7 linked regions of the Homo sapiens genome follow. The protein of the gene in region 4 purifies or fractionates together with the protein of the main gene of each other region. This does not show direct contact. Each region holds a gene or a part of one and is shown on either strand. Other genes may lie near its edges. The genes, in order: GTSE1, KLHL7, TACC3, BOD1L1, ADNP, SETD1B and ANKRD13B.

The links.
Region 1: the proteins of BOD1L1 (region 4) and GTSE1 purify together in Homo sapiens (affinity purification with mass spectrometry; one large-scale study listed by BioGRID and IntAct). This does not show direct contact.
Region 2: the proteins of BOD1L1 (region 4) and KLHL7 purify together in Homo sapiens (affinity purification with mass spectrometry; one large-scale study listed by BioGRID and IntAct). This does not show direct contact.
Region 3: the proteins of BOD1L1 (region 4) and TACC3 purify together in Homo sapiens (affinity purification with mass spectrometry; one large-scale study listed by BioGRID and IntAct). This does not show direct contact.
Region 5: the proteins of BOD1L1 (region 4) and ADNP fractionate together in Homo sapiens (co-fractionation; one large-scale study listed by BioGRID). This does not show direct contact.
Region 6: the proteins of BOD1L1 (region 4) and SETD1B purify together in Homo sapiens (affinity purification with mass spectrometry, with the first as the bait; one large-scale study listed by BioGRID). This does not show direct contact.
Region 7: the proteins of BOD1L1 (region 4) and ANKRD13B purify together in Homo sapiens (affinity purification with mass spectrometry; one large-scale study listed by BioGRID and IntAct). This does not show direct contact.

What each region holds. Positions count from the first base shown.
Region 1 is NC_000022.11:46,317,038-46,321,316, forward strand, and holds part of GTSE1 (G2 and S phase-expressed protein 1), read left to right. Parts: exon of another isoform or gene 1-826; intron 827-4,279. UniProt on the Homo sapiens protein: May be involved in p53-induced cell cycle arrest in G2/M phase by interfering with microtubule rearrangements that are required to enter mitosis. Overexpression delays G2/M phase progression.
Region 2 is NC_000007.14:23,108,197-23,112,475, forward strand, and holds part of KLHL7 (kelch-like protein 7), read left to right. Parts: intron 1-4,279. UniProt on the Homo sapiens protein: Substrate-specific adapter of a BCR (BTB-CUL3-RBX1) E3 ubiquitin ligase complex. The BCR(KLHL7) complex acts by mediating ubiquitination and subsequent degradation of substrate proteins. Probably mediates 'Lys-48'-linked ubiquitination.
Region 3 is NC_000004.12:1,734,762-1,739,040, forward strand, and holds part of TACC3 (transforming acidic coiled-coil-containing protein 3), read left to right. Parts: intron 1-511; coding exon 512-564; intron 565-969; coding exon 970-1,073; intron 1,074-2,479; coding exon 2,480-2,567; intron 2,568-2,836; coding exon 2,837-2,941; coding exon of another isoform or gene 2,942-2,953; intron 2,954-3,586; coding exon of another isoform or gene 3,587-3,631; exon of another isoform or gene 3,632-4,279. UniProt on the Homo sapiens protein: Plays a role in the microtubule-dependent coupling of the nucleus and the centrosome. Involved in the processes that regulate centrosome-mediated interkinetic nuclear migration (INM) of neural progenitors.
Region 4 is NC_000004.12:13,606,579-13,610,857, reverse strand, and holds part of BOD1L1 (biorientation of chromosomes in cell division protein 1-like 1), read left to right. Parts: intron 1-1,451; coding exon 1,452-1,563; intron 1,564-2,189; coding exon 2,190-2,328; intron 2,329-3,668; coding exon 3,669-3,741; intron 3,742-4,279. UniProt on the Homo sapiens protein: Component of the fork protection machinery required to protect stalled/damaged replication forks from uncontrolled DNA2-dependent resection.
Region 5 is NC_000020.11:50,900,064-50,904,342, reverse strand, and holds part of ADNP (activity-dependent neuroprotector homeobox protein), read left to right. Parts: intron 1-341; coding exon of another isoform or gene 342-346; coding exon 347-454; intron 455-2,233; coding exon 2,234-2,326; intron 2,327-4,279.
Region 6 is NC_000012.12:121,830,583-121,833,935, forward strand, and holds the end of SETD1B (histone-lysine N-methyltransferase SETD1B), read left to right. Parts: 3' UTR 1-2,074; downstream 2,075-3,353. UniProt on the Homo sapiens protein: Histone methyltransferase that catalyzes methyl group transfer from S-adenosyl-L-methionine to the epsilon-amino group of 'Lys-4' of histone H3 (H3K4) via a non-processive mechanism.
Region 7 is NC_000017.11:29,591,301-29,596,229, reverse strand, and holds the start of ANKRD13B (ankyrin repeat domain-containing protein 13B), read right to left. Parts: upstream 3,099-4,929; 5' UTR 3,035-3,098; coding exon of another isoform or gene 2,609-3,034; coding exon 2,495-2,608; intron 2,348-2,494; exon of another isoform or gene 2,036-2,347; intron 2,011-2,035; exon of another isoform or gene 1,702-2,010; coding exon of another isoform or gene 1,612-1,701; intron 1-1,611. UniProt on the Homo sapiens protein: Ubiquitin-binding protein that specifically recognizes and binds 'Lys-63'-linked ubiquitin. Does not bind 'Lys-48'-linked ubiquitin.

The sequences.
Region 1 (4,279 bases), on a different chromosome or scaffold from region 4:
TGTAACCTCCACCTACCGAGTTCAAGCAATTCTCCTGCCTCAGCCTCCCGAGTAGCTGGGATTACAGGTGCCCACCACCACACCCGGCTAATTTTTTTTTTGTATTTTTGGTAGAGACGGGGTTTCGCCATGTTGGCCAGGCTGGTCTGGAACTCCTGACCTCAAGTGACCCACCCATCTCGGCCTCTCAAACTGCTGGGATTATAGGTGTGAGCCACCGTGCCCGGCCCAGCCTTTTTCCTTGAGCTACAGTTTGGGTAGTTTCTGTTGTCAGATATCATTTCTTCTGCAGTGCCTAACAGCTGTGAAGCCCATCCAGTTAACTTTGTTTCTAACATAATAGTTTCCCCTTATTTCTTCTCATGGTACTTGGGTTTTCTTTTACATCCTCGTGAGCAAATTGATAATGGTTTTAGGGTCTACGATTCTTCTCATACCATCTTCCCCATCATTTTGGGGTCTGTTTCGACTGACTAATTTTGTTTCCGGGTTTTGGCCTCATTTTCCTGCCTCTACATTTTTCACAAGTTTTTCTTGGTTGTTGGATATTGTCAGGTGTACACTTTTGAATGTCTGGATTTTGTTGTCTTTCTCTGAGGAGTTGGGTTGGGCTTGGCAGGCAGTTAAGGTGCAGATCATCCTTCCGAGGCTTTTTATGCTTTGAAGTGGTGGGTCTAGCATAGCCTTTCCGCCTCCCGCCACCGGCGTCCTTCCCAAGGCCTCTGCTGCACACCCGTGTGTCCCGCAAGGCCCGCGAGACCCCTGCACTCCTGCTGCTGCAAGATGACACCTTCTCGGCCCTGTGAGCTCCGCTCGTTGCTCCCTGGTAAGACGGCGGTTTCTCGGCCCTGTGAGCTCCGCTCGTTGCTCCCTGGTAGTTGCTCTTCTCTTGACCTTGAGGACTCCTGCCCTGCACCTGTGCACTGCCTGGTGCTCAGCCAGAGACTCGAGATTCCCTTGGGTTCCTAGAGCTCGTTCTGTCGGAGTAGCCCCCTCCTCTCTAGTTTCTGGCCCTCAGATTGCAGCCACCTCAGCCTCCTGAGCTCCAGCCACTGCCTTCTCCAGTCAGTGAGGCCACTGGCCCCAGCAGGTGTCTGGCCATTAGTGGGTGGGTGTTTGTAAAGTTTTCATGAATTTCTTGAACAATTGTGTGCAATGCAGAAAGTTCTCAGAGCTGACTTAAGGTGAGAGGAGCGTCCTGGCCTCCTCTGTCAGGCAGATCTGCCCTCTGGGTGCTTGAGGATTTTAAGTTCTGGCAGTGCCGGCCAGCACAGGCAGCCTGCAACTCCCAGAAACTGCATTCTGAGTCCTGCTGTAGGAACAAGCTGTTCTGCTGAGTGTCTTCTCTGTGCTGGAATGCTTTGGGGGACAAGGGACATCATGATAAGACAGACCTACTCTCACAGAATTTCTGTTTAATAGGAAAAGATACGAAATGTTATCAGATGAGCAGGCCTGCAGATCCTAGCACAACAAAGGGACTAAGGGAAGATGGTGTCCTGGAGCTGGCATGTTTGGGGAGGAATTTGCATCGGGTGGTTCTTTGGCAAAGATGGTCAGGAGGTGACACGGGACTGAGATCTGAACCAGGAGACTGAGGCAGCCGGTAGGAAAGTGCAAGGGGGAGCACTCCAGGCAGAGGCAACGGCAGGAGTGCAGAGGTCCTGGGGCAGGAAGGCGTGGGACGTGCTCTGGGAGCAGCATGGGGGCCGGAGGGTGGGAGTGCAGCCGCTGCGGTCGGGATTCTGCGTAGACGTGCGACAGCTGGTCAGTACTCCTTGGTGTCAGGGACCCAGGCTTACTCCATCCTGTGCTGCCGTGATGAGCTTCTCATCCTCATGGTCTAGTGTGGCTGCACCGGCTCTGGCCCTCATACCTCCCGGCAGGAAGCCTTCTTCTAGGTGAAGAAGAGCAAATCCCCACCTTTCAAGGACCCTCACTGCAAGTTGTCCCTGTGACTCCGTTTGTGTCCCATTGAGTACGACGCTTCCCTGCACAGGATGCTAGGACACGTTGTCTTTATTCCGCACACAGCTGAAATTTCTTACTGAGAAGAGGAAAGTTGCTGTTGAACAAAAACTAGCAACCTCAGCCAGTCAGTGACCGAGGGGCAGGGTAAGAAGAGATGAAGATGGAGGGGCAGCCCGAGGCCGGCTCCCAGAGCGCCGCGTGACCAGAGCGGACCCTGGAGTACCGTCAGTGCAGGAGGACGTGCATAGGAGAGATCAGAGCAGAGCGACTTGACCTTCAGAAGGTCCCTCCACAGAGGGAAGAGCAGAGTCTCTGGGCCGAAGAGTGGTGGGGAGGGTAATGCGGACCTGGCCCTCACTGTGTTGGGGAGGAAGCTAGTGCTGGGGAAGGAGGCTGGAGCGCTGCGGTCTGCCTGACGTTCTGGTAGCTTAGGGCTCATGTGGCAGTGCAGAGAGGGACTCGAGTGTCCCTGAGGTTCTGGCGGAACCTGGGTGCTGCCACTCATGTGACAGGAGGGCTGGAAGAGGCAGCGGGCAGAGTCCACGGCCCCATTTTGGAAGTAGTGAGGGTGAGAGGCCACTTAGGCTGCAGCTGAGGGGTGGAGCAGGCTGAGAGCTCAGAGGAGAAGCCACAGCTGGAGACCTCAGTGTAGGTTTCAACAGCAGAGAGCTGAGTTTGTAGAGATGGGAGCTGTGAGCTGGGCACGGTGGCTAACTCCTGTAATCCTAGCACTTTGGGAGGCCGAGGTGAGCAGATCACCTGAGGTCAGGAGTTCGAGAGCAGCCTGGTCAACATGGTGAAACCCTGTCTCTACTAAAAATAGAAAAATTAGCCAGGCATGGTGGCGCATGCCTGTAATCCCAGCTACTTGGGAAGCTGAGGCAGGAGAATCACTTGAGCCAGGAGGCAGAGGTTGTAGTGAGCCGAGATGGTGTCACTGCACTCCAGCCTGGGCGACAGAACGAGACTGTCTCAAAAAAAAAAAAAAGAAAGAAAGAAAGAAAAGAAATGCGAGCTGTGATTGGGTGGGTTCTGCAGGGACACCCTACGGCCCAGGTCATGTGGAGGTGTGTTCAGTAGTGTTTGCTTCCCTTCTGCCTGAATGCCTGGAGCCAGGACATGCGTCTGCCATGTCTCTCCTGACCACGTTGGCACAAGTGTTGGCTGGTCTCCTGGCTGTCGGGCTGCTTGATGCCACAGGACTTCTGCTAATCCCAAATCCCTGTTGGCTTTGCCCTGTTTCCCAGAGCGTGTCCCTGCGGTCTCCTTACGCACCTCTCAGATGTGCATTTCACCTTCGGCAGGCGGTTCCTCCTCTCTCCACAATGCTGGGAACAGGACTGTCTCTTGCACGCCTTTGGTCATTCATCAGGGTCAAAACTGGTCCCACAAACTCAGCACTGGCCGGAAGAGAGGCCCCAGGGGAGCAGCCACGCTGTTGGGAACACACAGCTCTGGGAGGCACGTGGTGGTGTGCACTTTTTGGCTGAGAGCACTGGTGGTGTTGCTCATTGGCTGTGACACCAGCTGTCACCGTGGAGGAGAGGTGAGGGCTGAGGGCACTCACAGCGTGGGACCACATGAACGGTGCCCTGTAGTGGAGGCTTTCATATGTGCACTTTCTCAAAATACTCGAGGCAAGCAGCATTCTTTGTAAAACAGTCCAGTTACAAATGTTGCTATTTACTATGAGTCCATGCTGCCGGGTCACCCAGAGGATTGAGACTTGGAATTCTGGCTGTGGGCTTTGCCTCCCCGGTACTGGGAGCTGCAGTGGAGACGCGCCGTCCAGGTTTAGGGAAGAGCTGATGTGGGCCTGGGAGGCGTGCGTGCTCAGGCAGCCCTAGGGCAGTCGTGAGGGTGTCAGGAGATGGCTTGTTCGTGTTCTGTTTCATAAGAATGACCTTCCCGTGCCACCATGGAAGCTGCTGAAGAGTGCGCTCCACCCAGCTGAGGGAGAGGACAACCGAGAGGAAGGGGTCTCGGGAGAGAGGGAGCCAACACGGGAGGCGGCAAGGGAGAGGGAGGCGGCGAGGGAGAGAGAGGTGGGCTTGCCTCCACACCCGCCAGGAGTGACCAACTTGGGTCTCACAGAGACCTCTGTGAATGGTGCGGGGTCAGTGACCCAAGAATGTTCCCAAAAGACAGGGATTATGGGATGACTTAGTCACAGACCACCCCACTCCATACAAGAAAACAAACACCAGCCTGGGCGACACAGTGAGACCCCGATTCTACAAAAACATTTAGCTGGGCATGGTGCTGGGCACCTGTAGTCCCAGCTACTTGGGAGACTGAGGCAGGAAGA
Region 2 (4,279 bases), on a different chromosome or scaffold from region 4:
ACATTGTGAGATTAGCATACCTCAGTTCCAATCCTGCTCTCTCATTATTTCATTTTGTTATTTTAGATAACATGATTTGGGTCATTCCATCTCTCTGTAGTATAGTGGCCGATTCTATACATAGAGGCAAAAGGGGATTCTGCAGAGCCAGCAGCCTCGGCTTCTTCTAAAGCCTTTTCCTACATTGTTTTTGTCATTTCTAGCCTTTTGTTTCTAAGTAAACTCTCCAGTGAAGTATGGGATACATATAAGAGGGCACAAATCATAAATGTATAGCTCAATTATTACAAAGTGCACATCCCACCAACAAGACGAGAACATGACCAGTACACCAGAGGTCCCCCCTTATGCCCTTCTCAGTCACCAACCCCACAGTAGTAACAACTATTCTAACTCTGTAACCATCGAAGTTAGAGCAGAAGCAACCATTGATAAATACCATGCCATGCCATCTTCTAAGGGCACTATGCACCCCTGTTATTAAGAGGAGCTCTTTGTTCTGTCTTTGGTGTGTGGTGCATTCATGAAAGTCTGCAGCACATCGGCAAAAAGTGGGTTTTTCCTGTGTTTGAACTTATATAAATGTAATCATATGGCATAAACTCTTGTGTTTTGTTTTCTTAAAGCCAACATTGTTTGTGAGATTCATCTGTGCTGTGTGTAGCGCTACTTCATCCTTGTGGTATATAGTATCCCATTGAATGAATATAGCACAATTTATCCATTCTATCATTATGAACATTTGGGTTATTTCTAGTTTGGAACTATTAAGACTAGTACTACTTTGAACATTTTTGTACACTTTGTACATGCCTTTTGGTATGCATATGTATGTATTAATATTTGTGTTGGGAAATACCAAACAGGAATTTTTGAGTCATAAGCTATACCACCTTCAGCTTTAAAAGATATCGTCGTGTAGTTTTCCAAAGTGATTGTACCATGTTACGCTTCTGCCAGTTGTGTGTGAGAGAGGTTTTTGCTCCGCATCCCTGCCATCACTTGATGTTGTCAGTCTTATCACTTTAGCCATTCTAACTGGGTGTATAGGAGCATCTTATTTAATTGGATTGAGTACCTTTTCATTTATTTCTTTAACTTTTTGCTTAGATTAATGTTATTACCTGATATGTAAAATAGAGGCTTTACAAGGCAGGTCTGGGTCACAGTCACTATTGCACATGCACATTGCTGTTGCCATACTCTTCTTTTGTGTTAATGAAGTCCAGGAGTCTCTTAACATTGGAGGAAGATGTTTTAAGACCTTCCTGAGTACCACCATAGTTTATAGTTTCTCCACATTAAATGAATTAAAGCATAACTGGAACTTGAAAGCTTATGTTAAAGTCCTTATTGAGAGTTATGTGAGAGAACTACAAAGCTGATTTCACAATTAGATACTGGGCAGTTAACTGGGCTCACCTTCCGGCTAAAATGACTTTGCTTCTGTATTCTCATCTGTCTGACTGTAAATTACTACATGTCATTATCTTTAGGTTCTCTTGTGAATAATCTAAACCTTCAGTGTTAAACCCTTGATATTAATAAGACTTCTTGAGCACTTATAACTGTTCCAGCCACTCTGCAGAGTGTTTTACATGCTTTGTCTCATTTAATTCTCTTAACTTTCATTGACAATTCCAGTCATCCAGACCTTCTTATTCTTTTTCCTGTACTTTACTGTTTTCTGTTTTCTTTTTCTGTCTGTCCAGCTTAGAAGCTATTGTCACTCCACTGTCTCTCCAGTGTCCCAGTTTTCTTGACCCTCTGTCCCTTTTTCATGTCCATCTGGCAAACTTGAGTATTGATGACTGATTACCTTCTTTGTGCAAGGCTCCAAGCACAGCTGGAAAATATCTCACTGGGCAACTTCTGCCAAGTAAGTGCTTGGCCACTAATTTCCACTAGACTATCAGTGCCCGTGAGCAATCTTTTTGTTTTACTATTTTCCTCCAATCTGAGTCCTTTCTCTAGATCCTCACTTTCAGCAGATCACCTTCTTTTGACACCATAGATAAATAGAAGTCATTAGTCTAGAACTGTCTACCTTTTCACTTTCTACCACCAGATCTATAAACCTATTTTGACACTTTCCCTTTTCTCTTCTTATCCTGCTACAATGGAGATGCTGCTGCTTTTTCTAAGGCCAGTACTTCTACCTAGGCTTTGGCTTCCTGGATGCTGGGCTTCTCAGAAGTATTATACTGTTGGTTATTCCATCTTTGTTGAGCATCTTTAACTTTTCTTCTTTGCTGGATTCTTGCTATTAGCACTTAAGCTTGTTTTAACCTCTCCAGCTTTTGAACCAAACAACCAGCAAACCCATTCTTAATCTCAACATACCCCTCTAAATACTTCTCTCCCCCCATTAAGATGAAAAGCTGAGTAAATTCACTACATTTTCTTTTGTTTTTTTTTTAATTTTATTATTATTATACTTTAAGTTTTAGGGTACATGTGCACAATGTGCAGGTTTGTTACATATGTATACATGTGCCATATTGGTGTGCTGCACCCATTAACTCGTCATTTAGTATTAGGTATATCTCCTAATGCTATCCCTCCCCCCTCCCCCCACCCCACAACAGTCCCCAAAGTGTGATGTTCCCCTTCCTGTGTCCGTGTGTTCTCATTGTTCAAGTCCCACCTATGAGTGAGAACATGCGGTTCACTACATTTTCTTACTTACTATTTATTTATTACTCTAGTTCAATTTGGCTTCCAAGTTCATTCATTGAAATGAATACTTATTGACAACCCACTGTATGCTAAACATTTTGCTAGATTCTGGGGTTGCAATGATAAGCAAACCCTGACAGTCCCAATCCTCTTGTGGTTTATAGGCTAGTAGAAAAGCAAGACATTAGTCAAGTAATCACACAAATAAATGTAATATTGCAACAGTGGTAGGTATTACACAGGAGAATAACATGGTACAACGAGGGCATATGGGTGGGTAATTTGACCATCAGGAAGTTTTCTCTAAGGAAATGGTCATTGAGAGCTGAAATAAGAGTAGGTGTTAACTAGGTAAAGAGAAAAGGGAAGAGTGACTCAAGTAGAGGGAACAACATATTCAGAGGCTCTGAGTTGGAGACCTACTTTATTATAGAATGGCAAGTTCGAGACTGATTAAAGGTCAGTGTAATTGGAGCACAGAACATAAGGCGGACGATGGTTCTAGATGAAACTGGCGAAGTAGCTAGAGACCTGCCCATGCATAGCTTCATAAGTCAAGTTAGGTGATTTGCCCTTATTCTAAAATCTGTGTATGCATGTTTGTGTGCATGTGCATGCATGTTTGTAGAGATGGTATGTTTTCTTCTTTAAAAAAGATGACTTGGCCTGGCACAATGGCTCACACATGTAATCCCAGCACTTTGGGAGGCTGAGACAGGTGGATCACCTGAGGTCAGGAGTTTGAGACCAGTCTGGCTAACATGGTGAAACTCCATCTTTACTAAAAATACAAAAAATTAGCCAGGCATAGTCGCACGTGCCTGTAGTCCAAGCTACTCAGAAGACTGAGGCAGGAGAATTGGTTGAACCCGGGAGGCAGAGGTTGTGGTGAGCCAAGATTGCACCATTGCACTCCAGCCTGGAGACAGAGTGAGACTCCGTCTCAAAAAAAAAAAAAAAAAAAAAAAAAAGACTTACTGCTTTGTGGTAAATGAATTAAAGAGTTTTCAGAGTGCTTGCTGGCAGACCAAATAGGAAGCTGTAGTGGTCCAGTGAGACATGATGGTCCTTTGGACTGAGGTGATGACAGTGGCAGCCATAAGCAACATCAATGAAGAAAAAGTGATAGATTAAAAAGATAATAAAATCAACAGGACTTGGTGATGATAACTGCCATATGTGGTTGTGATAACTAAATTAGGTAACCAAATTAAGATAACTTAAAATACGACCTGATAACAAGTAACATCTCAGTAAGTGTTAGCTATTTGTATTGTGATGCTGGTACATGATTGGATGTTGAGGGATTCAGCATAAGGTGTCACTTATGATCTCTAGGGTTCTGGAATGCATAACTAAATGGATGATGACACTATTCACTGAGAAAGGAGGTATTGGAAAAGGATCAAAGCATTGGGGAAAGGATTATAATTTGTGTTTTAGATGTGTTTAATTTGTGATATCATTGTGACACTGAAGTATATATGACAAATTGACAGGTCTGGAAAGTTGTGGGTTAGATGTATATATTTGTGAATTATCTGCATATAGAAGATAACTTCTTCATTGAAGCTGTGAAGAGTCAAGAGTCCAGAGTCCA
Region 3 (4,279 bases), about 12 Mb from region 4:
CCAGGCTCAAGGAGTTCTCCTGCCTCAGCCTCCCTGTAATAGGAGTGCAGCACCGCGCCTAGCTAATTTTTGTATTTTTTGTACAGACAAGGTTTTGCCCTGTTGAACTCCTGGGCTCAAGTGATCCACTCGCCTCAGCCTCCACCCTTAGTTTTAATCAAAAGTTATATTATCAAAAATTAAAAGACTTGTCTAGGGTAATTTTAAAGACTAATAGTTCTCAACCAGAGCAGTTTTGCCCCCGCCTTTCCCCAGATGTTTGTGGTTGTCACACCTGGAGGTGCTGCTGGCAGGGAGTGGGTAGAGGCTGGGGATGCCGCTCAGCACCCTGCGGTGCCCAGGAGGCGCCTGCCGCAGACAGCAGTCAGGCCCCGAACATCCACACCTCCAAGGGAGGAAATACTGCTGGCTGGAATGATCCTGCCTCACTGAGTGCTGAGGGAGACACCAGCCCGCCGCCCTTAGGGCCCTGGTGAGGGGCGATGGCGGCGGCATGATTCACTCCTCTCAGTTCTAGGCACGGGCGCGGAGGTGGATTACCTGGAGCAGTTTGGAACTTCCTCGGTAGGTACCAGGCAATTCCGCGAAGCCTCACCCACAGGGTGTCCGAGAGCAGCCACGGCAGGTCTTGCCCCCGGAGCGTCCCTTGGTGCCCACGTCCCCCCAGCTGCACACAGGCCCAGGCATTGTGGCGGGCTGTGAATCCAGGGCCCCTTCTGCAGCACCTCCTCTAAGTGGTGTCCTGTGGCAGGGCTCTAGGGCTCTCTACCTGGTGCCTAGCCCAGGATGAAACTCTGACACGCTGTGCTGCTGGGAATGGTGGTGTCTCGGGCAGGGTTGTGGGTGACCGGGGGTGGGAGTGTGCGGGTGACCGGGGGTGGGAGTGTGCAGGTGACCTCCCTGGCCCTTAGCCCCCGTGTGTGTTAGGGGATGGCAGTCAGACCTGATCACTTGCCCTCTTGTCCCCAGTTTAAGGAGTCGGCCTTGAGGAAGCAGTCCTTATACCTCAAGTTCGACCCCCTCCTGAGGGACAGTCCTGGTAGACCAGTGCCCGTGGCCACCGAGACCAGCAGGTATGTGCGCCGGCCCTCCCTCATGCATGAAGCCTTGAGTGTGGGAAGACTGGAGGCTGTTCCTAGGTGTGCTGTCTGCACAGAGGCTTCTAGACCGGGGGGAGATGATCAGAACTGGAAAGGAGCTGTGCTAGGGGTGGGCTGGGCAGCAAGGCCAGAGCAGCCCTTGTGTGTCTGGCAGGAGCAACGGCAGCCTACCCTCCAGCCACAGGGCTGCTGCCTTGCTGGTTACAGCCACCGTTCTAGGTATATTAAAGATCTAAACTTAAATCTTTTAAGAGTACTTCCTCTAAAACAGAGGTCGGCAGGCCAGGCGCGGTGGCTTACGCCTGTAATCCCAGCACTTTGGGAGGCCGAGGTGGATGGATAGCCTCAGCTCAGGAGTTTGCCACCAGCCTGGGCAACATGTTGAAACCCCGTCTCTACTAAAATACAAAAATTAGCCGGGTGTGACGGCATGCACCTGTAGTCTCAGCTACTTGGGAAGCCGAGGCAGGAGAATTGCTTGAACCCAGGAGGCGGAGGTTGCAGTGAGCTGAGATTGCGCCACTGCACTCCAGCCTGGGCAACAGAGTGAGACTCCATCTCAAAAAAAAAAAAAAAAAAAAAAACCAAAAAATAGAGGTCAGCAAACTATCACCTGTGGGCCAGACTTGGCCACTGCCTGTTTGTGTAAAGTTTTATCGTCACAGAGCCATGCCCGTTCCTTTGCAAATTGTGGCAACTTTCACACTACAAGGCCAGAACTGAGTAGTGTGACAGAGGCTGTGTGGCCTTCAAATCCTAACACATGGCCGGGCGCAGTGGCTCACACCTGGAATCCCAGCCCTTTGGGAGGCTGAGGCGGGTGGATCGCCTGAGGTCAGGAGTTTGAGACCAGCCTGGCCAACATAGTGAACCCCCATCTCTACTAAAAATAACAAAAATTAGCCGGGTGAGGCGGCAGGCGCCTGTAATCCCAGCTACTTGGGTTGCTGAAGCAGGAGAATCGGGTGAGCCTGGGAGGCAGGGGTTGCAGGGAGCCGAGATCATGCCACTGCACTCCAATCTGGGTGACAGAGTGAGACCCTGTCTCGGAAAAAGAAAAAAAAAAAGGCTCTGAGCTGTGAACAGCCCCCTGATGAGGCAGCACTGGCTCCGCTCAGCCTGCAGTGGGTAATGAAGCGTCACCGTGCTCTCCCGGAAGGACAAGCAGCCACGTGGGATGGGCAGGTGAGGGAGGGGGGCACGGAGCAGCAGAGAGGCCGGGCATGCTGGATGCGGGTCTGCGTTTTCTACCACTACCCTGACTTGAGTGGTTTTAAACTAAAAAGCAAAGAGCCCGGTTAGCTTGTCCACATGGTCCTCTGTGTCCTACTCAACACTGGGAGGGCCTAGTGACTGAGGCTGCCTCTGCTTGGTGGCAGCATGCACGGTGCAAATGAGACTCCCTCAGGACGTCCGCGGGAAGCCAAGCTTGTGGAGTTCGATTTCTTGGGAGCACTGGACATTCCTGTAAGTCCTTGAGTCCCTCTTGAACTGTCTTGTGTGTGGTCTGAGGGAACGAGTTGTTTTAAGGGCCTATATTTTCTATTCCTGGGGGTCTGAGCCTTTGGTTTTGTTGGGGGCATGGGGCCGCTGTGCTGTTCCCTCGCCGCACTGTCTCGGGTCCCTCATGCACTGTCTGAGGCTCTTGGCCTGTGTGGGCCTTTCCTCCCTCACACTAGGTCAGAGGTAAGAGGCAAGGGCGAAATGGGTTCCTGTTTCATCCCCATCTCCCGCAGGTGCCAGGCCCACCCCCAGGTGTTCCCGCGCCTGGGGGCCCACCCCTGTCCACCGGACCTATAGTGGACCTGCTCCAGTACAGCCAGAAGGACCTGGATGCAGTGGTAAGGACGCAGGTAGTAGCTATTCCACAGAACCTGCAGGCCGCTCTGGGGCTTGGCCAACAGTGGGCAGGGGTCCAACAGCCTGACCCGCCATCCCTGCCATCCCTGCCCCTGCTGGTTGGGGTGGAATTGCAGAGAGCTGCCGGCCCCTGGCCTGTCACTACTGCCCAGGTCGCTGAGGGTCCAGGCTTCCACCCAGTGTCCCCGCAGTCAGCTGCCCACCAGCAGCCTCCCCGGGACTCTCCGGCCTGGGCATGGCGTTGGCCTCTGGTGGCCTTGCAGCAGTGAGTGTGGTTCTTGCTGCCGTGAGCCCGAGTGTCGCCCCTTTCCTCCCGCCCTCCCACGAGTCCAGACGCATCTCCTGGCAGCTTAGGAAGCTCCATCTTCACCCACCCCACATCTGAGGGTCCCGTGCCTTGTCTCCCTCCATCCTCACTGTACATGCCAGGCTTCAGCCTGTTCTAACTCCGGGCCTAAATTGTCCCTAAGAGAGCTGTAGGCACACAAAGGGGCTGGGTGTCTGCAGGCACCACTGTGAGCTACCGTCGCCAGATGGTCCCCAGGGAGGTGCAGACAGGGTGGTTCCGGAGGCCGGCTGGCAGGGCTGGGTTCAAGCCCCAACATCCACACCAGTGTTGTTCACAGTGGCCCCAGGTGTCATCTCCGCAGAGGCCTGTGATGTGGCCCTGACCCCGTACCCCAACAACCTCCTTCCCTGTGTCAGAGCCCGTGTGAGTAACCCAATAGCAGGCCTGGGGACCACAGTGTGGCTGGCCCCCTCCTCTGCAGGCCTGGGCTCCGGGGGCAGGTGGCCCCTGCATGTAACTTATGTTAGAAATGCACAATGCTTGTTCTCTGGTGCCACAAAGAAATAGTGCTCGAACATTAATTTTCTCAGCAAGGCAGTTTTTACTTTCTGCAGAAAGGGTGCCCCTCGCAGATGGAGCAATGGCAAGAGCACACCTGAACAAGGGAGGGGAAGGGGTTCTTATTCCTGACACAGGTAGCCCTACTGCTGTGTTGTTCCCCTGTTGGCTAAGGTTGGACCACACAGTCTAAGCCAATTCCAATTGGCTATTTTAAAGAGGGCAGGGTAAGAGTCAGAGTGGTGGGGTGAGTAGTTTGACGGGAAGGACGGTTAGGAACAGGTAACTCAAGGTGACTTAGGTCAGAGCAGGTGACCGGGATGAGTCAGGATGGAGCAGGTGACCAGGGAACAGATGTGAACTACTGATTAGGACTGGCGGGAAAATTGTTTACTGAAACTAGAAGCAAGGGGCGAAGAGAACCAGGAATTTTAAATGGAGAATCAAAGAAGAGATCTGGCCGGGTGCAGTG
Region 4 (4,279 bases):
GATGTGCATATGAAGCAGAGACATACAGGATTTGCCTTCAGGAAACTTGTCATTTAACTAGGTAGAGTAGATGTAAACATGTGACAGAGATGTTTGTGTCATCATTACTAATACAAGTGAATATCCCTTATCCGAAATGGGTGGGACCAGAGGTGTTTCAAATTTTGGAATTTTTCACAATTTGGAATATTCGCATATACATAGTGACAAATCTTAGGGATGGAATGCAAGTCTAAACATGAAATTCCTTTGTGTTTCTTATATGTATATGCACATAGCCTGAAGAGTATTCGATACAATGTTTTTCATAATTTGGTGCATGAAACAAAGTTTTGACTGCATTTTGACTGCCACCTGTCACATGAAGTCAGGTGTGGAACTTTCCACTTGTGACAGCATGTCAGTGCTCAAAGAGTTAAGATTTTCAGATGAGGGATGCTCAACCTGTAGTAGTGAAACTGGTAACAACCTGAGTGCTTCACAGTATGGAAATGTTTAAATCAAGTGTAGATCCAGTCCTGCAAAAATACAGTATGCAGCTATTAACATACTATTGATATGGAAATGCTATTTACCTATTTCTTGGATTCAAAAATATTTCCAATTATAAAATGTACCACTGAATTAATAACAGCTTTTTAAAGAAAATTACTACCTTATTGTTACATATGTATATTGGTTTTAAGATAGCTTACAATTTCAGAAACATTAAAATATGAAAAGTTGTAAAATATGAAAAGTTCAGAATCAGGAAATATTGTCACATAGGAAAATGATTTGAAGAAACTACCCCAAAATGCTAGTAGTGATTAGCCTTCCCTTCAGGCTTATCTTTTGAAAACATTACTTGGTTAGAAGTTATGCACCTGCTTAGGATTTTTGGCACTCTGAGCCAGAAAGAGATAGTAGGAATAGCACAATGACTGTGAATTCTTTCTGCTGTAAAAGACCTGCAAGTCCTGAGTCCCTTGGGTCCCAAGCATATAACCAGCAAGTCATATATGTTGTAGAACTAGCCTATCACTTGAATTTTTATTTCAACTGTTTTCTATAAGAACAGTTGAAAAGTTATAAACACCTACCTATATATACTTGATGTTCATAGATATTTTCACAGCTATCATTTTAATTGAAACAACCAGCTTATTTAATCACTTTTCCCCAAAATTATACCTTTCCCTTTCTTTAATGGCATTCTTAAAGAGTAATGGCAAATTTTCACATCTGTTTCTTCTATTCTGGTAGCTTCTAGATTGAAACATACACATACATATGTATGTATACACACAGAGATAAATGTGTGTATATATATGTAGTGTATGTGCATTTTTTCAGAGCCCGTTAATTTGTAAGAACATCTGAAGGGTAAACTAAAACTTTAAAAAAAATACAATTTTTCAGTGTGTTTTTGCCTTTGCCTAATAATCTGTTAGGGTATTTTGTGGTTTTAGGCCAAAGAAAAAGAAGAGAGGCTTTTAAGAAGGCAAATCAATAGAGAAAAACTTGAAGAAAAACGAAAACAGAAAGCAGAAAAGACAAAGTCTTCAAAAACCAAGGGTCAAGGTATAGATGTCAACTTTTAATATTTTAAACTATCTCATATATTTCATTATTTTCTGGGTACTCTTATATTACTTATGAGACATGAATATAAAATAAAATGATCTAGTCTCAAATGTGGAAGATTTCCTTACGTTTTAATCTCATGTGTTTCATCATTTTTCTTTTTTATTAAATTGCTAAATCTAAATTAAACATTTTACCAGAAACCAGCTTATGCAACTCATTTGTTAGCAGTATATTTTTCTGTAATGATTGAATCACTGGAAAGTAGATTGTTAACACATGAGTTATCAACCCTTGCTGGTGATTAATGAAATTAATCTATGCTTATGTTAACTAAAATGTCAAACATTTCCCTGTAATATTGTGTTGAACAAAATTGTATTCCCTCTGGGCACTAATCCTATGTAATATATGAAATCACACATACACACACTTATGTGATCATTTGAAATAAGAGAGATAAGACTTCTTCATCCAAAATATTATATCTATTCCAGCACAACTTAAGAATATTAAAGCCATTTTGGCTTTAACAATGATTAGAAAAATCTTAATGAAAAATTAATATTACATTGTTTGTAAAACTTTTCTGAAATACGTTTTATTGATTGCTTCTTTTCTAGGCAGGAGTAGTGTGGACTTAGAAGAATCATCAACAAAGAGTTTGGAACCTAAAGCCGCCAGAATTAAAGAAGTCCTTAAAGAACGGAAAGTTTTAGAAAAAAAAGTAGCCTTAAGCAAAAAGAGAAAAAAAGATTCAAGGTACATATTTTATCTGGTCATGTTTCCCTTATAACACTCCCCTGGGTGCTTTCAGAAGAGAGGAATTGAAGTGACAGTAAAGAGTTGTACTTTGGTTGTGTATGTTACTGCATGTTTATGAAGGACCTTAGGGTTTCATATTTAGTATCAAAATGTTAATATCTATAACATTTCTAAGTAGTGTATCCTAATCTTTTTGGGCGTCCCAGATCTTTTTGATAATTTGGTGAGAGCTTTAGACCCTCTCCCCTGAAAAATGTACATGCATAAGCTAACAATTATCCCTAGACTTTAAGAGTTTATGAATCCTCTAGAAGTTCCCTGGAGGTATTCCTCTTGTTGGTGTTCAGTAACCACTTATTTTCAATTATTATTTCCAGTCTTTCCATGCCGTTATTTTTACCAGTATTCCATGATTCTCCCCCAACCCAGAATCTGGGCCAGATTCCTTATTAACCCTGCATTATCATCGTTAACTTTTTAAGAATTAGAAAGCTAAAGAGACTCTTGAGGGTAGCTATGAAGTCATGTGAGCCATGGGCTGCAATTTTGCTATTCCATCAAGTTGCATTTATGTAAATTTATCACAGACTTCAGGATAACTGATTTGATAATTTGCAGAACTTGGTAAGAGTAGTAAGCTCTCAAATTTCTTACTATTATTACCTCTCATCCTTATTGATCTGAATAAATAAGACTGCCCTCTTTACTCAAAAGATAGTAATTTTGAAGTGTAATTATAGCCCATAAAGCATTCATCTTTAAGCAACAAATTAGGAATTTTTGTTTCAGCTGTACTTTCCTTTAGCACCAAGAACAGTTAATGCTATGTTTGGGATTGTGCTCTCCTTTGTTGACCAATAATTGATAGGATTTAAATTGAAATGTAACAAGTCTGCATTTGTCGATCAAGTGTATAAATTATAGTAAACAGCTGGGCGCGGTGGCTCACGCCTTTAATCCCAGCACTTCGGGAGGCAGAGGCGGGTGGAACACATGAGGTCAGGAGTTTGAGACCAGCCTGACCAACATGGTGAAACCCTGTCTCTACTAAAAATACAAAATTAGCCAGGCATTGTGGCGTATGCCTGTAATCCCAGCTACTTGGGAGGCTGAGGCAGGAGAATTACTTGAACTCAGGAGCGGAGATTGCAGTAAGCCAAGATTGCGTGATTGCACTCCAGCCTGGGCAACAAGAGCAAGACTCCACCTCAAAAAATAATAATAATAAAATAAGATAAATAAAAATTATAGTAAAGGAAAGATTTTTATTGTTTTCAACCTTCCTGAAAAATTTTCGTATTTGATTCATGCTTTATATTTGACTCTTTCCCCCTTAGGAATGTTGAAGAGAACTCCAAAAAGAAACAGCAATATGAAGAAGATTCCAAAGAAACCCTTAAAACAAGTGAGGTATGCCTTAATAAAACCTCATTTCAAATGCTGTTTTGTTAGATATAGGCTGTTTATTCCTTTGGAGTAAAACTTAGAATGTAATTTGACTTTTTTCAAGTCAAATAAAAAGTCAACTTACATTCAGCATTTTTGAAACCCCATTTTGTTATGTCCCAAATTGCCCATTTTGTTGAGTTGATTTATATATTTGTCGTTTATCTAGGTAATAGCTACTCTTCTTCTCTTTTCCCATTTCTTATAATTGCAATAACAAAAATGCCAGTAATGACAAAAAAAGAAAAAGGGAGGCTAAAATTAAAATCTAAAATCCCTCCACTATAACAAATTATCCTTTTTATTCCCTCTCATTCCTTATCCACGGGTCCACATAATTTTTTAGAGTACAAGTAATCTGGCAAACTGTTTTTAACATTTTACTCATTTCATGTTACCTTCTAGGCATCCTAATTATTTAATGATTGTCTAGTGTTACATATAATGTACATACCATAATTTATTTAAGCATGTCCTTATATTTTAGCGCTTAGGTTGTTTC
Region 5 (4,279 bases), on a different chromosome or scaffold from region 4:
TTGAGAAGCTGAGGTGAGAGGATCACTTGAGCCCAGAAGGTTGAGGCTATGGTGAATCGTGAGTGCACTGCAGTCAATGAACCATGAGTGCACTGCACTCCAGCCTGCGCGACAGAGTAAGACTCTGTCTTAAGAAAAGGAAGGAAGGATGGATGGATGGATATATCAAGCCATATGCACATGAAAGCAGGTGTGTGTCTGTGTGTGTACACACTAGATGAGGATATCTATGCACCTTTTTTGTCAGATGGGTAGGTTTTATGATCCTATCATCAGTGGAATTAGTAAATATTACAAGTTGTACGTGTTTTGACTTTGACTTAAATTTTTTTTTCCAATAGAAACTATGTTCCAACTTCCTGTCAACAATCTTGGCAGTTTAAGAAAAGCCCGGAAAACTGTGAAAAAAATACTTAGTGACATTGGGTTGGAATACTGTAAAGAACATATAGAAGTAAGTAGCATGTCATTTTTAAATTTTAACATGACTCAGCTTCTGATCCATTACTTTGTGTCAGTGGCCAAGATGGCTAAATCTTAGATGTGATTCTGAATTTCAGCCACAGCAGTAGCTTCACGAAAACATTCTCAATAGCATTAACTTGTGCCTTTCTCCCTAAAATGGGCTTTTTCATTTTTGCATCCTGAAGCAGAAGGCTACCATTGAGGACTTAAGCATGTCAGGCGTTGAACTAGGTGCCGTAAAGTTGTCTATACATTTAATCCTTAGAACAACCATGGAGGCGGGAGGCAGTGTAGCAGTTCTTATCTCCACTTCACAGATGAAGAACAAATAAATAGGCCCAGCCTTGCAGCTGAGAAAGTGGCAGTGTCTGTGGGACTCAAAGCCTGTTCTCATTCTGATACGCCTGAATGTTCTGGTTGACCTTCTTCTAATTGTTGAGGCGTGCTTGTGTGGGTGCTTGTTGTCTCTTTCCTTAGGATTTGAGCATTTGTTGCCCCTTTTGACCCATCATAGACTATTACTTTCCCCCTTGTATAACAGTTTGGGCTTTATGAACTGTTTTTCAAGCTGTTTTATTCTATGAGCTTTATAACAGCTCTGTGGGATAGCCATGCAGTGGTCTCCTTTTCAACATCTCACTGTTCCAGGTCTTATGGTTTGTTGGTCAGAGCCCCTGATTGAAAAGAAATGTTTGAAGCTGTTTCCCCCACTAACCTTTAAGTTCTAGGTGGCTAGGGAACATAGCTACCTTGTTTATCCATTTAGCCCCAGCACCTAGCACAGTGTTTTGCACGTAATAGGTGATCAGTAAGTGTTTGAATGGAATTGGAAGTAAAAAAGCAAATTCATTCATACAACAGGTTTTCTTAATTTGAGTTCCACTAATAATACTTGAAGAGTATGGCATGGAAACAGAAGCTGCTCAAAAGTTGACTTCTCTAGTCACGTTGTTCCAAGTGTGGAAGTAGCCCTTCTCCAACCCCAGAGTTCAGGTAGATCTGCCCAAATGAAACAGTCCATTCACTTTGCACTCTGTGGGGTCATCTTCATAGAAATAATTAATACCAACATCACAGTACATTTCTGTCATGCATTTGATTTGTTCCTCCTATGATTATTTATGTGTAGACTTCATTTTCCACCTTGAACTGTGAACTTTTTAGGAACAAGTGGGATTTTACCCTAAGACTTTTAATCTTCCTAGTCTGGAGGGAAGTGGACCATTAAATTTTTACATGAGAGTATAAATTTAACATCATACTGCTTAACTTTCTTTGAATAGCTTTCTTTCTGCCTTTTTGGGTTTGAAATTTGAGTTTTCTTCCTGATCTGATCTCCTGCCCCCTCCCCTCGAAAAAAATCTTTTTTTTGCACAGAACCAGAAATCATATTTGCAGTGCTGTAAGCAAACATTGCTATTTTAGACACCATTCCAGTACTGTAACTGACGAGTTAGAGTACAGTACTCTAATGAAAAGTGCTTTGATATTAGTGTGTGGCTGAATTTTTTACTTAATTAGAACTTCCAGCAATTTCCTTGGAAACCTGACTGACCATCAGGAAAGTGGTTGGTTGATATAAAATGTAGACTGCAACTTCCATATGCCTTTTTATATTTAAGAGCCTTATCACTCCTAGTTTAAGTCCTTGTTGACGTTGGTTTTCCTGTGCCTCTCCCCATCTTAGTTAAGAGGTGAGATTTACATGTAAGATTGGGTTAGCGTTTATACCACTATGTTTTTGTAAACTTATTTCACTGTTTTCTAGGATTTTAAACAATTTGAACCTAATGACTTTTATTTGAAAAACACTACATGGGAGGATGTAGGACTGTGGGACCCATCACTTACGAAAAACCAGGTAAGTGGCACAGGAGACTTCCTCAGATGGCAGCATGCTTGGTATACTCCCTTTTCAGCTCTAGGCCTTTTATAGCGGTGCAGTGATTGCGGGCAAGTGCCAAACATCGAAAGTGTCAAAATTGCATTTCATATTTTCCTGACCAGTGGGAAGACTAAGAAAAACTTTTTGTCCTTTTTTGTCATTGGACTAAAACTTGAGGTGTAAGAAGAAACAAAATTTTGTTACTTAAAAGTTACGAAGCCTGCTGTATCCCACCATTTCCCCTAAAAGTGCTCTGGCTCTATTTTTCTGCATCTGTGTTGCCATTCTTGTTTTTTCTGCACAGAAAAAGACAAGACCCTTCCTTACATTTAAGCTTTTCTTATTTCCCTATGTTGATGGCACCCAACTTCTATGGGAGGCCTGGGGAAGTGACTCTGTAGGATGTCAGTGACAGAGAGATAAAACTTCTTACAAATTGGCATTAAAAACAATATTAGCACTGCCAGCAAGTATCAATAGATGATGATGATGTCATATAGGTGATATTTCCTTCTGCATAGAGAGAGGTAATTGTCAATTTAATTTTTACCATTACCTATTTTAGGAGTGATTCTCATTCTGCATTAATGATCTGTTCATCTATCGGAACATACTTTTCAGGAAATTAGTACTCAGATATTTGACTTTTTTTTTTTTTTTTTTTTTTTTTTAAATACCCCAGGCAAAGTTACTAACCAGCAGTCTTAGAATGAGAATGCTTTCCAGTGGGACACATCATTTATTTAATTCAGTTTTATCAATCTGAAAGCCTCATAGCTGAATACTAAAGAAGAGTTGAGCTTTGAGGAGAAGCAGAGTATTTCATCATGGTTCAAACCAGTATCTGAAACAAGTAGGTTTCTAGGGAGAAAAGATAATCTCTTACCAAGCATGTCAGTTCACCTGCCTTCATCAAAGGACTGACTGCATAGGTGTTAACAATCATAATTCTGAAAGTTGCTCTTTGATATCAGTATATTCTATAATGTATTATTGGCTTTTAAATACCTCACCCTCCTCACAGTCTGTAGGACATTTTTATTTAACTTCTTGATTTGAATCAAAGCAGCTATTACTTCATTAGCTCTTTTGAAGTGTTCTTGGTTGAGAAGGAACAGCAAGGCTTATAGAAGAAAGCCAACTTTTCAAATCAGTCTTTCTTTTGATCAGCGCTGAATCTGATACTACACTGTACTTTAATCAGAGGAAAAAATGGAGATTTGCCTTTTTTCTATGAAAATTTATCCATAATGAGGAAAGGAATAAAAGATATAGCTTTATCTCTTGTAATTGTCTAATTGCACTAAAACATCGTGGGCCCTGAATTTTACCGCAGTCATTCACCACATAACGACATTTTGGTCAGTGATGAACTACATCTACGACAGTGGTCCCATAAGAATATAATTGAGCTGAAAAACTTGCTACCTTATGACATCATAGCGCAACATATGATTCATGTTTGTAGTGATACTAATGTAAACACACCTGTGCTGCCAGTCATAGAAGTATAGCACATACAGTTATTTACAGCGTATAATACCGTCGTGCATTGCTTAATGATGGGATGCATTCTGAGAAATGCCCTGTTAGGTGATGTCATTGTTGTACAAACATCATAAAGGGTACTTACACAGACCTAGGTGGTATAGCCTCCTATTACCCCTACGCTATATGGTATGGCCTGTTGCTCCTAGGCTACAAACTTGTATGGCATGTTACTATAAGAGAATACTATATACTGAATACTATAAGAGTGATTAACACAATGGTAAGTATTTGTGTTTCTAAACATAGTGAAGCATAGAAAAGGTACAGTAAAAATGCAATATAAAAGAAAAATTGGTACACCTATATTGGGCACTTGCGGGACTGGAAGTTGCTCTGAGTGGTGACTGAATATGAAGGGACATTATTGTACATCACTGT
Region 6 (3,353 bases), on a different chromosome or scaffold from region 4:
CTTCCTGTGAATGCTGCTACGTTGTTTTGTCTTCTCTATTTTTTTCCTCGTTGTGAGAAAAGACATTTAACCGTTGAAATGTGAAGGTGGAATCAGAGAGGGGCCCCGCGGGGGTCTGCAGAGGCCTCAGTGTGGCTGTGCGTGGCCCGTGTCCTGGAAGCCACCCGGACCTGGACGCAGGGCCAGGTGCTGTGGGAAGGATGGAGGCCCCCACGGCCTTGACCTCAGAACACTACGCCCTGAAAGCGCCCCTCACTGCCCGTGGGCACAGTGAGGAGACCCCACACCTTTCCCCACCCGAGCTGCAGCCTGTTCCTTCCCCAGAGGCCTGGGGCACCACTGACCCGGTGGACCCTGATGGAGCTAAGCTGTCCCAGGCAGGGGTCTCCGCTCTGGGCTTTCCCTGCCACCTCACACCCCAGCACCCCCTAAACCTTGGGTTCAATGTTTACTTTCTCATTCGGATGCCAGCAACGCGGGAGCCTCTCGGAGGCCCCAGTGCAGGTGAGGGGCGCTGAGAACGCGGGCAGCCACTCTCTTCTGCCCTTGCCTTCGCCCTGGGTGGGACAGGGCTCCCAAGGGCAGGCGGGTCCCCCAGTCCCGCCATTACGGGTTGTCAGACCGTCTGCGTGTGGCATTTTTTGGCTTATAAGCTTCACCCACTCACCCCCAACCCACACCCCACATCCCCCTGCCGGCAGCCCCTCAACCTAAGAAGGCCAGAGCATATTTATTTTCGGAGGGAGCAGATTACTTCTCCCAGAGAAAGGAAAATCTTGGAAAAGATTTAAAAACACAAATCTAAGCCTTGACGGTTTTTTTTTCCCTTTTGACCCCCTTCCCATCTCTTCAGAATTTATTCCCATGGCTTTTTTTTTTCTTGTGCGTGTATAAAATCAAAAGGAAGGGGAAAAAGGTTTTTGAAGTTCAGAACCAACTTCTGTATATAGAGGCTGCCGCAAAGGACTTTCTCTTGGGAACATTGTTTCTTGTAGAAACATGCGGGAAGACATTTTTTGCTCATTTCTTTGTACTTCCAAAAAAAAAGGAAAAAAAAGACAAAAGCAAGTCCCCCCGTACCCCAGAAAGCAGAGGAGGCGTGTAAATAATTTCTGGAAAGTGACTGTTGTGACCCGGAGTCCTCATCAAGATGAGCGCGCTCCATGAGGGAGCTGCTCCCACCCTGCGGACGCAGGCGGCCGGAGCCTCTGGTATCTCAGCTTGTGTCAAGCTTGTTATCATGTAAATTCTGTACAAAGAATTGTTATTTTTCTCTTTTTTGTTGTTGGTGGTTTTGTTGTGTGTTTTTTGTTGTTTTTTTTTTATTCCTTTCCCCCAGGCCCTCTCTATTTGAGACTGTGCCCGCCGGTTTCAAGATCAAGGAAATTGGTGGCAACAAGACACAGATGGGGTACCTGGGCACAGCGGCGAACTTCTCTTCCGTTTGCGGTTTTCTGCCTAATTGTGCAACTGAGGAAATAATTTATTTTTCACATGAGGAAATGCGTAGCTTGTAGAGACGGCTGATTCAAGTTACATGTACAGCCTCCAAAGGGCTGTCTCCATTCTGTCCCCTTCCCATAAAAGAAGTGGGGGTGTTCGAGAAGACCAGGGAAGGGACCCTTGCCTCACCCCTCCCCCTGGCCTCACCTTGCTCCCAGCCATCGTGCCCAGTGTTAACCTCGGCTGGCCTTCACTAAGGGGACTAGACCTCCCTCTCCCCAGGAGCCCCAGCCCCAGAGTGGTTTGCAATAATCAAGATATGTGTCGAGTCATTTTTCTTTCAACTCCCTCATTTTTCATTGAACAAATCTCTGCTTTTCAAGAGTTGGGGGTTTCTGCTATTTTTTGCTTTCTCTCCCTCCCCCTGCAAAGATGAGAACCAATGAGTTTTAGGGATGTTTGTGCGGGTAGACTCCATCATCCATATGTAACTTGTTTTGAAGAGAAGTGTTTCCGTTGTGTGTCTTGATGTAAATATTTGTTCATATTTTTGTGAATTCAATACTATGTACCATTGTATTATAGTAACTTTTATAAAGCAAACCATAAATATACTGACTTTTCTTACAGATACGCCGTCTCTCTTGCTCTCCTCTCTCCCTCTCCTCTTTATTCTTTCTTTCTGTTGGGAGCACATCCTGCTTCTGTGGAGGGTGGAGTGGTCCACTCAGACACTCAGATCAGCAGGGGTTTTTTTGTTTGTTTTTGAGACAGGGTCTCACTCTGTCACCTCAGGCTGGAGTGCAGTGGTGCAATCATGGCTCACTGCAGCCTTGACTTCCTGGGCTCAAGTGATCCTCCCACCTCAGCCTCCTGAGTAGCTGGGACTACAGGAGCACACCACCATGCCCAGCTAATTTTTAAGAAATTTTTCTGTAGAGACGGGGTCTCCCTATGTTGCCCAGGCTGGTTTCAAACTCCTGGGCTCAAGCAATCCTCCCACCTCAGCCTCCCAAAGTAGTGGGATTACAGATGTGAGCCACCGTGCCCAGCCTGAACTTGTAGGTGGGTTTTGTGAAATGGGCCAAATTATAGTCACCACTAGACCTTCCACAGCTTTTAAGTGTGATTTCTAGATTTTTTTCTTAAAACCTCAGGTTTCTGACTCATGAGGTCTGCAATGAAGGAAATAAGATCAGGTATCCTTTTACTATCACTAGAAGAACGTAGGTGGTTCCTCAGAAATGTTTAACACTTAAGGAGATGCCCCCCTGGTCTGCATTTGAGGGAGGAAAAAGGGCTGATAAAATAGTAGAAGTTGAGAAGAATTAAATCTATCCTGTATTCATGGCATTTCAGAGATGCTGTGCCCCAGTCAGTCTCAGCTCTGCTTGACCCAGTAGACGGGTGATAAAGGGCTTATAGTTGGCGTCCACGGTAAATGTCTCCAAGAAGACGTAAAACCTTAGCAAAAAGCAATATGCCTGAAAAGACGCTGTACGTCACTTCCTACTGGAGAAATGTGAATTATCCCAGGATGCCGTTTCCCCCTGTCAGGTTGGCAAATATTAAAAGGTGGAGGAAACCCAATTTGAGGGAGCAGGAGGCTGGGGTACTCTCGTGTGTCATTAGGGGAAGCCAAAAATCACTGCAACCTTTAGGAGGAAAAATACCTATTAGTAATCATTATTTAAAATGCACACGGCCGGCACGGTGGCTCACGCCTGTGATCCCAGCACTTTGGGAGGCCTAGGAGGGCAGATCACCTGAGGTCAGGAGTTCGAGCTAGCCTAGCCAACATGGTAAAACCCCATCTCTATTAAAAATACAAAAAAATTAGCCGAGTGTGGTGGTGCACGCCTGTAATCCCAGATACTTGGGAGGCTGAGGTGGGAGAATCGCTTGAACCC
Region 7 (4,929 bases), on a different chromosome or scaffold from region 4:
CTCTGAAGGTGGCCATGCTGGCCCCCTCCTCAGCCAGCTGCACTGCCAAGCCTGCCCACGGAGGGCCTCTGCGGGGCTTTCTTGGAGTGAAGAAGAGGCAGCTATGCCAAGCCAAGACCAGGGAAACCTGGCTCCTGAGTGCTTGAGGAAAGCCGAGCTGTTTCTGTGGCGGCTGGTACCAGGGGGACTAGAGGCCAGGGACCCCTGGCTGGGATGCCAGGGTTCCACAGTGCTTTTCTCATGATGTTAGGTGGCTGTCCCCAGGTCCCCCTTGCAGAAAACAGAGCCTGGTGCCCTGGGGAGTAGGCAGTGTACATCTGGATACAAGCCTCACTCTGGGCCAGTCCTCGAGAGGGGAGACAGCTAGGGAACTCTCCCACCTACACGGAGTGGCATTCCTCTTTTTGGCACGCCTGAGGGAAGGAGAGGACTGGCCTGGCTCCTCTGTGGTTGAACAAGGGTTAACCTCCACCAGTGCCCTATATTCCCCCTGGCCTGGATCCAGGACAGGCAGTGTCCATTTCAAGGAGACATTAACTCACTGGGGCAGGGGTAGGGGTGAATCTGGGACCTTGTTTCTGAGGCAGCCAGAGGGGTGGGAGAGAGAAACACATGAGCAGCCCCCAACACCTCTACCTGCAGCGGCTCCGGTGCCCCCCACCCCAACCTTACCCCAGCAAGATGGCCACCCACTTCAGGATTATCAGCAGAGAGGCCTGCTGGAGAAGTCTTTTCTCCCAGGGCATTCTGCCTCTCTCCAGTCTCTGCAGTAAAAGGACCACCCACCCTCAGGCAAGGGAGTGGGACTGAGGCATTCTGGAGATTCAGCCTTCTGCCTAGTGATCCTTGGACCCCTGGGAAGTTCTTCCCACATGAGGCTTGTCTTCTTTTGCTTTCAGGGAAGGAAAGCAGAGAAGAGCCAGCAGAGGCTGGCTGGCCATGTCTTAGCGCTTTGCACATCACCCTGGAATTTCCTGTTCACACTTGCTTCACCAGAACAGAGACTCCTTGAGGGCAGGGGTTGATGCCCTGTTTGTTCATCTGTTTCCTGGGGGCACTGTGACCCACTCTCTTTAACAGGCTTCTCGTGGCTGCAGAGCACTGCCTTTATGATAGATAAACAAAGACAGGGTCTGAGGAGTTCAGTCTGAGGAGAAACTCGGAGAGTGCTGGCATAGGCACAGGTAACAGGAAGTGGCCACCCAGACCGGCCCAGAGGCCTGCGGGCACAGGTCACTCGCATATTTACAGGGACTGCCATGCAGAGCTGGATGCCATGCAGGCCTGGGGGCTGGCTCAGCGTGGGACTTCAGAGACACATCCTGACCCCCAGCCTGCTCAGTCCGATGGCCTGCCCTCCACCTCCATGCTTCCCTTGGCGATTGCACAGCTCCTCAGACTGAACTTCTCATGACTCAATAAGCAGCCCTCAGAAGGTAAATTCCCACAGCGGGCAACTGCGCTAACCACCCCCAGCCCATGGCCCCAAGGTCTCAGACCCAGTCCAAAACTGGGGTTCTCAGCCTGCAGCAAGCCATGGGACCCGGGCCCAGCTCTGGCTCTTGCAGCCCACCCTGGAGGCGGGGGGTCATCTCTGCCATGAGTGCCTACCTGTGGCCTGGGTGCCAAGGGCAGAAGTGGCAATCTGTGACCTGTGCCTGCCTTTGTTCTGAAGCATGGCCAGAAGACATCCTGAAGCATGGCCAGAAGACATCCCCCCTTCCCCTGTTTTCTGGAGACCACTGCCCAGCCCAAAGCTGGTGACCCACGTGGCCTTACTGACCAGCAGAAACCAGGGAGCCCACCTGGTGCGCAGAACCTCAAGTCCTTCCAGCAGCCAGGGCCCCTCAGCTTCCTCTGCGCCTAGAAACCAGGCCCCAGCACCAGAGGGCAGGAGAGCGCTTTTCAGCACCTGGACAAGGCCCTTGGGGCCTCCCAAGAGGGTCTTTCTCCACTCCCTGTTCCTGAGCTGGGGCTGGGCTCTGAGAGATCCAAGGATCTGCCCAGTTTGAGAGCTAAAAGAGAAAGCGCTCACCGTTGGGGAGAGGGCGCTGGGTGGGGCTGGGGTGCCTGGGAGTGTGACACAGCCTCTTCCCCATTCTTGACCTATGGCCCCCTCCCCACGCAAGCCTTTCCCACCTCCGCACCCTCACTCGGGAGGTGTCGCCGCTCAACTGGCTGGGGCGGACTCTCCCACCACATGGAACACCGACACAGCCCGCAGCCCCTCCCTGCAGCCCTCACTGCCCCGGCGGAGGAGGGGCACAGAGGCCTCTACTCTCATCTAGGTGAGTCCGAAACACGTGTGGTCCCGCCCGTCCCGGCCGGAGGGGATCACCCTTTCCCGGTCAACAAGCACAAAAGCCGCGGCCGCAAACAAAGACGCGCCGCAAACTCGCCAGGGAGGCGGGACAGCCCGCGCCGCACCCCCTCCCCAGGCCGGACGGGCGTGCCCGGCCGCGGGGTCCCCGCGGCGCCCCGAAGGCGCTCCTACCTGGCCCGCGCGGACCTCCTTCTCCAGCTCGCGGTGGCGGTTGTGCCACACGAGGTAGTGCAGCGGATACTTGCCCTCGGGCCCCTTCCTGGCGGAGGCGTTGGCGGGGATCATCGCCCGCTCCTCATGCCGGGGCCGCGGCGCCCGGCCGGGGAGGAGGGACGGCGCCGGAGCCGGGGCCCGGGGCCGCGGGGCGGGGGGCCGGCGCTGCCTGCTCGCGGGGCTGCGGCTCGGGCATGTGCGAGCGGCGGCGGGCGGGGGCGGCGCGCCCGGCGCGGTGCGGGCGGCGCGGGCGACGGGCGTCCTCGCGAGGCGGCGGCGGCGGGCGGCGCGGAGAGGCCCCCACCCGCCCTGGGAGGGAGCGGGCACTCGGCGGCGCTGCGCGGACTCGCGCTCGCCTCCCACACCCCCGCACACAAAGACGCCGCTCGGCGGAGGGAGCAGGCGCCCGCAGCGGGCGCGGGGGCGCACGGGACGCGGGCCCCGGGGACGCCGCCGCAGGGACGCGCGCCCGCAGCCCCCGGGTCCCCACAGCTGCATAGCCCGGCCCTCAGCCCGAGCGGCCGGCGCGGGATACGGGGATGTGGGGATGATGGGGAGAGAGGAAGGGGACCAGGCGCCCCGGGTAGAGCTTGTCAGCTCAGCCCCGCGGCATCATGGGGTTTGTAGTCCGCCTCGTGAAACTGGGGGTGGCAGGTGGCCGAAGAGGGTCTGCACTGTCCCCGGATCTCGTGGGAGAGTGGGCGGGGAGTCAGGCCTGGCCCAGACGCGGGCGGGGCCCTGACGCCAGGTGGGCTGGGACGCACCTCCCCCGCTGGCATTTTGCCTTTTGCTGGGGAAGTGGGGGGGCACGGGCCTAGGTCGAGCGTTTGGGAGACGGGGTGGAGGTGTGGTCTTCAGAATTGAGCTTGGGTCCCAGGGGCCATGAAGAAGGATCCGGATTCCCAGAAGAGAGCGTCTGATTGGGAACTCCTGAGAAAGGTGTGGGGCATCAGTACCAAGGGTCATTGGAGCAGCCAGGGGTCTGGCCCCTGGAACATTTCTGAGGAGTCTTCCCTGCCCTGTTAGAAAATTAAACTCCATCTTCCACACATGTCATTGGAAACAGAATGTCCAGTAACGCGGGAAAGATGGTCCCTTTCCCCCCGCACACTGTCCCCAGCAAGAACCAGAGTGAGGTTGGACAGAAAAAGCAGCAGGTGGCAGCTCCGTTCCTCCACCCAGCTGGCCCTTCAGGAAGGGAAGTGACTGATTCCAGAGACTGTCTCCTTCCTGAATGACCCCAGGGTGAAGAGGTACTTCCAGAATGGTCCCTGCAGAGGGTGTGGTAAAAGTTGAATTGGCCTCTCAAGCGCCAATTGCAAGGCCTGGAAGGACCAAGAGGCTTGGACCAGTCCCTGGAGGGAGGGGACTGTGATGTCAGAGAGACCAGAGTTCGAATAGCTCCAACTGCCTGACCTTAAAAGAGCAAACTGCTTAATTTTTCCGACTTTCTCGGTCCACTCCCCTTCAAAATGAGAATCTAGATACTACCTCCTGGGGTGAGCTAAGGATAATGACTGCCCTGGAAACAGCGCCTCCCTCCCCCAACCAGGCGGGCCGAGACAGGTGGCGGGACCAGGCACGGTGCCTTCTTGAGCCCACCTCAGAACAAGGCAGGAATAAGGGATTCCACACCGGCCCTACTTAAAACAACAATCCAAGAAGTGTTTGTGTGGGAGGTGCCAGCAAAAGCTTGCAAACTCTCTCAGGTTTCTTTGTGTGGTCTTCCCTCCTTCCTCCTCCACACCCTGTGGTGCCAGGCCCCAGCGGGAAGAGATGAGGGAGGAGCGGGCTGCCTCGCCCCTTTCTCCCGCCTGGGAGGAGCCAGCTGGCGTCTCCGGGGGCCCGGGACCGCTGCCCGCCTGCACCACCAGGGGTCAGCAGAGTGTCGTGGCTGCAGCCAGTGCAGGGGAGGGGGCTGGCGCGGTTGAGGGGCATCTAGGAGTGGCCGGGAGCATGCCTGTGCATTTCCTTATTAAATTGTTTTTCGAACCTTGTGTGTGATTCCACTGTAGCAGTCCTGCTTCCTGGGGTGGTGACATCTCCACGGGGGAATCCAGAAACCCTTTTATCTCCAGTCCCAGGCCCAGAAGTTTGGCTGTGACGGGGCTGGGGGAAACAAAGTTTGGACGATGTGTCCGCGCCAGGGCCACTCCCAGGTAGTCTCTGAGCCAACCAGGAGATGGGGAGTGGGGTGGAGGGGTAAGCAGAGTGAATCATCCTTCTTCCCCAGCAAAGCCCAGGAGTCCGAGGACAGGGGGAGTTCAGGATGGATTGTGGGGAGTTGTCGATTGTGGGGAACTGTCCCCTGGGCGGCCGTGTTCTTTTTTTGCCAGGCGGCGGTAGACACTGAACCCAGGTCGCTTGCGCTTCGGCCCGCGCTCTCAGCTGCC